2 linked regions of the Homo sapiens genome follow. The protein of the gene in region 2 interacts with the protein of the main gene of each other region in a pairwise test. Each region holds a gene or a part of one and is shown on either strand. Other genes may lie near its edges.

Region 1 (3,258 bases), on a different chromosome or scaffold from region 2:
ACAAAACAAACAAACAAACAAAAAATAAAATTAAAATACAAAAACCATGTGCTGGGCCATAAAATAAGTCTTAATTCATTGCAGAAGACTTAAATCTTAAGGAATATGTTCTCCGACCACATTGGTCTTTAAAAACACACCAATAACAATAAACACCTAGAAAATCCTAAAGTATTTGGAATTTAAATAACATCCCTTTAAATAGCCCATAGGTCAAAAGAAAAAAAAAAAACCACAAGTGAAACTAGAAAATATCAAACTGAATGACAATGAAAACACATCAAATTAATATTTGTGGGAAGCAGCTAAAGCCATACTTGGAGGGAAATTTATAGCTAAATGACCGTACTGGGTGGGGGAAAGAGAGGCCTAAAATTAATGACCCAGAAGTCTGCCTTAAAAAAAAGCTAGAAAAACTAAGAACAAAGTAGGCCTGAAGTAAATAGAAGAAAGGAAATACTGAAGTTAAGAGTAAAAATCAGTGGAATAATGATAGAGAAAACAAGGCTAAAAACCGGTTCTTTGAAAAGATTAATAAAATTGAAAAGCACAACTAATACCAGACTTTCTCTTTTTTATTCGTTTGAGTTTTTTGTGCTGACTGTGCACGGACCAGTTCACATGGGTGCTGGGTTCACACAGGTTACAGGGGGAGGCAGAAGGAGAGAACACACCACAGCCTCCAGAGCGCCTCCATTGCAGATAAGCACGCATGCGCTCCTCCGTGCCGCACCCCTGTTCACTGCTGGATCCTGCGGATGCTCTGCACCTGGAAGGTCGGGGCATGAGAGCCCCACTCCCGGAAATGTTTGTAGTCACCGGAATGGTGATCGCATTCCAGCACATACTGAAATCCTCGGTAGCCCGGAAACTGGGAGCAAACCCAGCTGGAAAAGAGAAAAGGCAGACAGTTACTCTACAGAGACACCAGCATGGTGATCAACACAGGGGCAAAGGGATCTATGCACACGCACACAATTCCAGCCATCCTGGCCTTTCTTCAGTGCTCACAATGTGCCATGCTCTCTCCCCTACCACAGGGCCTTTGATCATGCCATTCCCTTTGCCAGAAGCACCATCCCAGCCTTTCTTTTCCTAGACAAGTTGTATTTGTCCTTCATGGCTCATCTTAATTATGAGGGCAATCTGACTCGTTCCCCAAATCAGGCCACAGTCCCTTATTATACCTTTGTAGCACTCATGTAATTCGATAGTTTTCAAATTATTTGTAAAATATCAGCCTCCCCTGCCAGCAGGCAAGCTCCTGAGTGTAGGAACGTGTATGTTTTGTTCATCGTTATCACCACCTGCATAAATATATAAAAGTCTAGCAAGGAAGAAGGGGTTCCTAAATATTTGCTGAATAAGTGAACAAGTGAAGGAATGGGAAGTCTTGTTCTTTCCCCTTTCTCCCTCCTTCCTTATCCAGAGGCACTTCCAAGAAAAAAAGCTATCATTTCAATTCATTGATTTTTTTTTTTTTTTTTTTTTTGAGACAGAGTCTCACTCTGTTGCCCAGACTGGAGTGCCGTGGCATGACCTCGGCTCACTGCAACCTCTGCCTCCTGGGTTCAAGTAATTCTGCCTCATCCGAGTGGCTGGGACTAGAGGCATAGCCACGACACCCAGCTAATTTTTTGTATTTTTAGTAGAGACGGGCTTTCACCATGTTGGCCAGGCTGGTCTCGAACTCCTGACCTCAGGTGATCCGCCCACCTCAGCCTCCCAAAGGGCTGGGATTACAGGCGTGAGCCACCGTGTCTGGCCCAACTCATTGATTTCTACTCTGTTCAGGACAAGGATTGGTGTCTGGTTTTCCAAGCCTCCATTTCCCTTTCTGTAAAAGAGGAAGTGAACTCAAGAATCACAAGGGGTCCCTCTTACTCTAAAACAACATGATTCTTTGGTGGTTCCTGAGAAAACTAAAGCCAAAAAAAGAAAAAAAAAAAAGATGAAAAACCCTACCTCCCATCTTTGCCCCCTGCCTACCAGGAGCCAAGGGGCACCTCAGAAAGTGGTTCTGATGTCCTCCCTAAATAAGAATCTCACACCTTAGCCTTCACCTGCCACCTCCTGGGTGGAAAGGAAAGGGCCAGTCAGTGCTGAGTTTGAAGCTGGATTGTTACCTACCTGCTGATGGACTTTGAGCAGGTTGCTGGAGCCACACCTGTGTTTTATGGCTAGGGGCATTCATTCTCCCCTCTTCTAGCCAAAGAGCCTGTGGCCTCTCACTCTCAGCCAAGGTGAGAAAATGAGGCTGAATCTAGCAATGGACCACATGACCAAACCTAGCCAATCAGAACACCCCATTCCTATGGGCATGATGATTGGTTCAGAGTTGAGCACAGGACCCAGCTGGACCAATGAGCACCTTTCTTGGAACCTTTAATAGAATCACTGAGCCTGGACACTGTCTTTCCCTAGGGCTGGATGTAACGATGAAGCCGCCACCTTTGCCTTCACACAGGAAGAGCTTGTCTAAGAATATAGTCACACAGAGGCAGGCAGGGCAACAGGTTGGGGGTTGTGGGGGGAGAGAGATACCTGCTGTAGTACCTGGATCCAGCTATGCTTGAAGCTAATTACAGGGGCTGATAAATATCTTCTGGGCTCAAACCAGTTTGATCTGGGTTTCAGTCCCTCAAATTCTGCCTGATACCTCCCTGTGCCTCAGTGTTCTCCTCTGGAATGTGGGCATCAGAGCACAAAAGTCCCCAGCACACAGTTTTCACAGGAGGTACACCTACCCCTCCCAGTAGCCCCTCCCCTGCCAGGTAGAGCCTTGAATACACTTACGCCCCAGAGTGGACGTGGAAGGACCCTACTTCATTGCCTTCCCATCCCATGGCCTGGAGGGAAGGATAGTCATCGCTCAGCTCTCCTTTCTTGCCCAGGAAGTTCTCTTGCTCGAAGATTGTCAGCCTCGAGTCACGGTGGTTCTACAGGAACAGGGAACACAGTCAGACCAGCAGGCTCCCAGTTGGAAACCCAGGAGCCTCTCCTGGCCTCCACACTCCCTGCCCTTGTCTCCCAAATCAGCCTTCCTTGCAAACCTTTTGGAAGGGCAATAAGGCAACAGGTACCAGAAACCTTGCCATTTGCCCTTCCAGAAATTTCCACAAAGAAAATAATCATGGAATAAATAGGCTGCAAGAATGTTCATCATAACAGTTTTTTCAAAAACAAACAAACAAAAAAAGGAGTCAACTTTTATGTCCAAAATTGGGGATCCAGTGGTAAGCTGAGGCATTACACTGT
Region 2 (3,654 bases):
GCCAGGAGAAGCAGGACTCACATCACACAGGAAGCCCCTCTTAGGCAGCCTTCACAGCCTTTCTGATGAGTGTGGGAGACAGGAGCTTCAGGAGCCTGACTGCCTCCCGAGTCCCAGATCTGTGTTTTAGTGGCTGTGTGACCTTGGGCAAATCACATCTCTGAGCCTCTTTTTCCTTCTCTAAAAAATTGCATGTGCTCAGGCCTGCAAAGCCTATGAAGGTAGCCACATTATCTTTGTTGCTGTCCACACAACTTTTCTAAATGCCTTCCCCTAATCCCATACCTGCCCCCTGAAGACACAAGGTGTCTATGCACGTCTCTACGTGTGTGTGTTGGTTTGCATCCATGTTAAATACACCTGCATGTGTGTTTACATTTGTGTCTATGCAGCTGTGTATTTCTGTGTACAAATATACAACTGTGAACCCAGGTGTGTTAGTGTTGCTGTGTATCTATGTGCCCATCCATATACCTGTGTCTGTAGCTTACGGAGAGGGGCACTGTGAGGGTGAAAGTGTTAATACATCTAAAGAGCTTAGAACAGTGCCCTGCACATAGTAAGGACTCAATGTTCAGTGTGTTTGTCATCCATCACTGCCTCCTCCCTTAAACAGCTTTCTGGCAGTTCAGCCAGATGGGAAATTGACATTTTACTCACAATTCTGTCTTGAGGTGCTCATGTGTCCACACACAGACGTAAGACACACACACACACACACACACACACACACACACACACACACCCCGCAGAACTGCTGCTGTGGCAGTGGTCAGTTCTAGTCTCAGACTCTGCCTCCACCTGTCAATCCCGAGTTTTCCCTTAAGATGAGGCTCAAAACCCAAAGTACCCCTCAGCCCAGGACATCTTCTCAGAAGATCTGCTGCCCGAGAGGCTGCCTCCATTCTCAGCTCAGCTTGTGCCAATGACCAAAGTGTTGATGATGGCTGACCCTACACCCTTGAGGGTTCCCTCATGGCCTGTGGACTTTCTGATATGGAGTCTGCAAGTAGGTCTCCCTGCTCTCCTCCTGCTCCATCTTCCAGGTCCCCAAGAGTGTACCTCTTCTCAGAGCCCCTCCTTGCTCTCTGCTCCCATGCAGGGGACACTCCTGACATTCCCATGCTCAGGCCCCTCCCACTTTTGTCCACTCCTTCACCTGAAACCACTCACCTGCTCCCCTTTACTCCAAGCTCTACAGCCCAGGGCAGCCTCTCTCTCCTGTTATGACCACTGCCCGGTCCCTGCAACCCCAGCCTCTGCCTGAACCTGGACAGAGCAGTGAGACTGATGGTGTTGCCTTACCTGTTCTCAGCCCTCCATGAGCTCCAAGGCCACTAGGCATGTTGCTAAGTGTCCCTCCTCTGTTTCGCCGCCTCCTCTGATCCCTGTTAGCACTCATCTCTGCTTTCTACAGGCAGTCGTGCGCCTGCCTGTTTCTGTTTCTATGTGTGTGCATCAAACATGCATGGATATCGTTTGTGTGCAATTGTGTGTGTGCACGGCATCATACACAAAGATCTCTGCTGGGAGCATTCCATGTCACCATTTTTGAGACTCATCGTACCCTCTTAGAGGGTGACCAGAGCTATGCCTCCAGACCGCAGAGCCTAAGTTGCAGCAGCTGAGCTTCCCTATGGGAATCTTTCATCTTCCCTCTGCCTCTTTTTCATCATCTTCTCCCTCAGGTACAGCACTGAGCAGTCTCCAGAATGCCCAGCATGGGCCATGCCATCCACCCCTCACAGGAGCCCATACAGTAGGGACAGCAGAGGGCTTAAGCTGGTGGCCCTGGTCCTCCTGGGAGCACCAGGGAGGAAGGTGCCCCTTGCTTTCTACAGCCAACTTCCCCAGCCTCCACCATCCCACACCTGCTTGTGCCAGGCTGCCCTAGGCTCTGTGGATGGCAAACAGCTGCCCACCGCTGCTCAGTCCCAGGGCGGATTCTCAGGAGATGGTGCCACACTCATGAGTTAGAAAACACTGCATGACTTCAACAACATTTCTAGTTGTTAGAATTGCAAGTTTGTAACATCACAGGCAAGGGTAAATAAACATTCACTGTTCTTTGCTTAAGCCATGGTCCCTTCCCACGCACCCTCCCTCCTTCATTGGGAGCAGAGTTCCTTTATGCCAAGTAGCCCAGGAGCCTCTGAAGCTCCTCGGTGTTGGGGACTTTGTCTTTCACATCTCTGAGTCCTCCTACCACAGAGCTCTGAGTAAATTGGATTTGGGACCTTATCTTTATTCCCAGTGCTAAACAGGGAAAAGACCAGGCTAGACTGTTCCCCATTTCTCCTCTCTGTCCCCTCAAGGTCTGTGGAGCTCTCTGACCCCATTTCCTTGGAAGATTGAGGCTGAATAATAATAAAAACCAACATCTGTGTCACAGCTTAAATTTTACAGAGTCTTTACCCTTCCATGGACTCAATTAATCCTTACAACCATATCAGTAGCTACTGCTGCTGCTGCTGCAATTATTATGAACCCATTTCACAAATGAGGAACCATGGCTCTGAGCAGCTAACCAGCCTAAGGCCTAACTTGGAAGCAGCAGAACCTTTAAAGTCAAGTCTACTGGTTTCAAAACCTGCCTGCTATTATCTCAGGCCCCTTGATCAGCTATGTTGAAGCTGGACAGCATTGTGAGATCACAGAAGCTGGGAGAAGGTAAATTATGCTGTCCTTCCTTATTACCTGGGAGGACCAATGCCTTCCACAGCCAACTTCAGCTGGGCCCATTCAGTGCTTAAACTGTCTCAAAGAACCCAGCAGGCCTTACCAGCCAGGGTCCTTCTGCTGCTTCTGCTCAGAAGCCCAGGAACCTCATAGTCAGCCCTATGATGCTAAAGACAGAGGACCGTCATGCTCAGAAAATGATATGTCCAAATCTCACCCACTCCAAAAAGTCAGAAGAAATTAACATAGCAAAGAGATGCTATCCCCACTTAATAAAGCAAACCATTGCAAATTAGTTTTACACGGTGAGCTCTGTGAGGGCATTTTAGAGTGAATCGACTTGTACTAAATGAATTATGCAGTTGTTTCCCCTTTAGAGGTGGAGATGCATAGAGCTGATCTCTGGTTTATTCCTGAACTTGCATTAGACTCCAAGCTTTTCTTAGTCATCATTTTTTTTTTTTAGAGACAGGGTTTCACTATATTGTTCAGGCTAGTCTTGAACACCTGAGCTCAAGCAATTCTCCTATCTCAGCCTCTGGTGTAGGCTGGGACTCCAGGCACATGCCACCACACCTGACTTTAGTCATCTTTGAATCCCTCCACCTAGAACAATGCTCAGCCTCTAGTAGGCTTGTAGGGAGAAATGGTTTTCAAAATTACTTAAATTAATGAGTAAATAAATACATAGAAATGAGTAAATCGTGAGTAGGTGAGTAAATGAATAGTGAATAGGCACACAAAAATGAAAGGGTAGAATCATATTGGTAAAGGAGTCAGCGAATCAATGAACAGGACATTTCAAGACCTGTGTAAGGACAATAGACTACTGATATGAACAGGTCCATGACAATAGACTACTAATATGAAACTGGTCCACTTCAGCTTCCTTCTTAGGTCACCTTTCATCACAACCTCTCACCTCCACAATGGGGTGTGAGCTTTCCCTCCCTCGGGAGGGGACGGGTACTTGTT

The links. The genes of interacting proteins can lie anywhere in the genome.
Region 1: the proteins of C1orf94 (region 2) and CRYBA4 interact in binary tests that used the Homo sapiens proteins (3 or more experiments, as listed by UniProt).

What each region holds. Positions count from the first base shown.
Region 1 is NC_000022.11:26,627,969-26,631,226, reverse strand, and holds the end of CRYBA4 (beta-crystallin A4), read right to left. Parts: intron 2,940-3,258; coding exon 2,797-2,939; intron 888-2,796; coding exon 740-887; 3' UTR 558-739; downstream 1-557. UniProt on the Homo sapiens protein: Crystallins are the dominant structural components of the vertebrate eye lens.
Region 2 is NC_000001.11:34,204,354-34,208,007, reverse strand, and holds part of C1orf94 (uncharacterized protein C1orf94), read right to left. Parts: intron 1-3,654.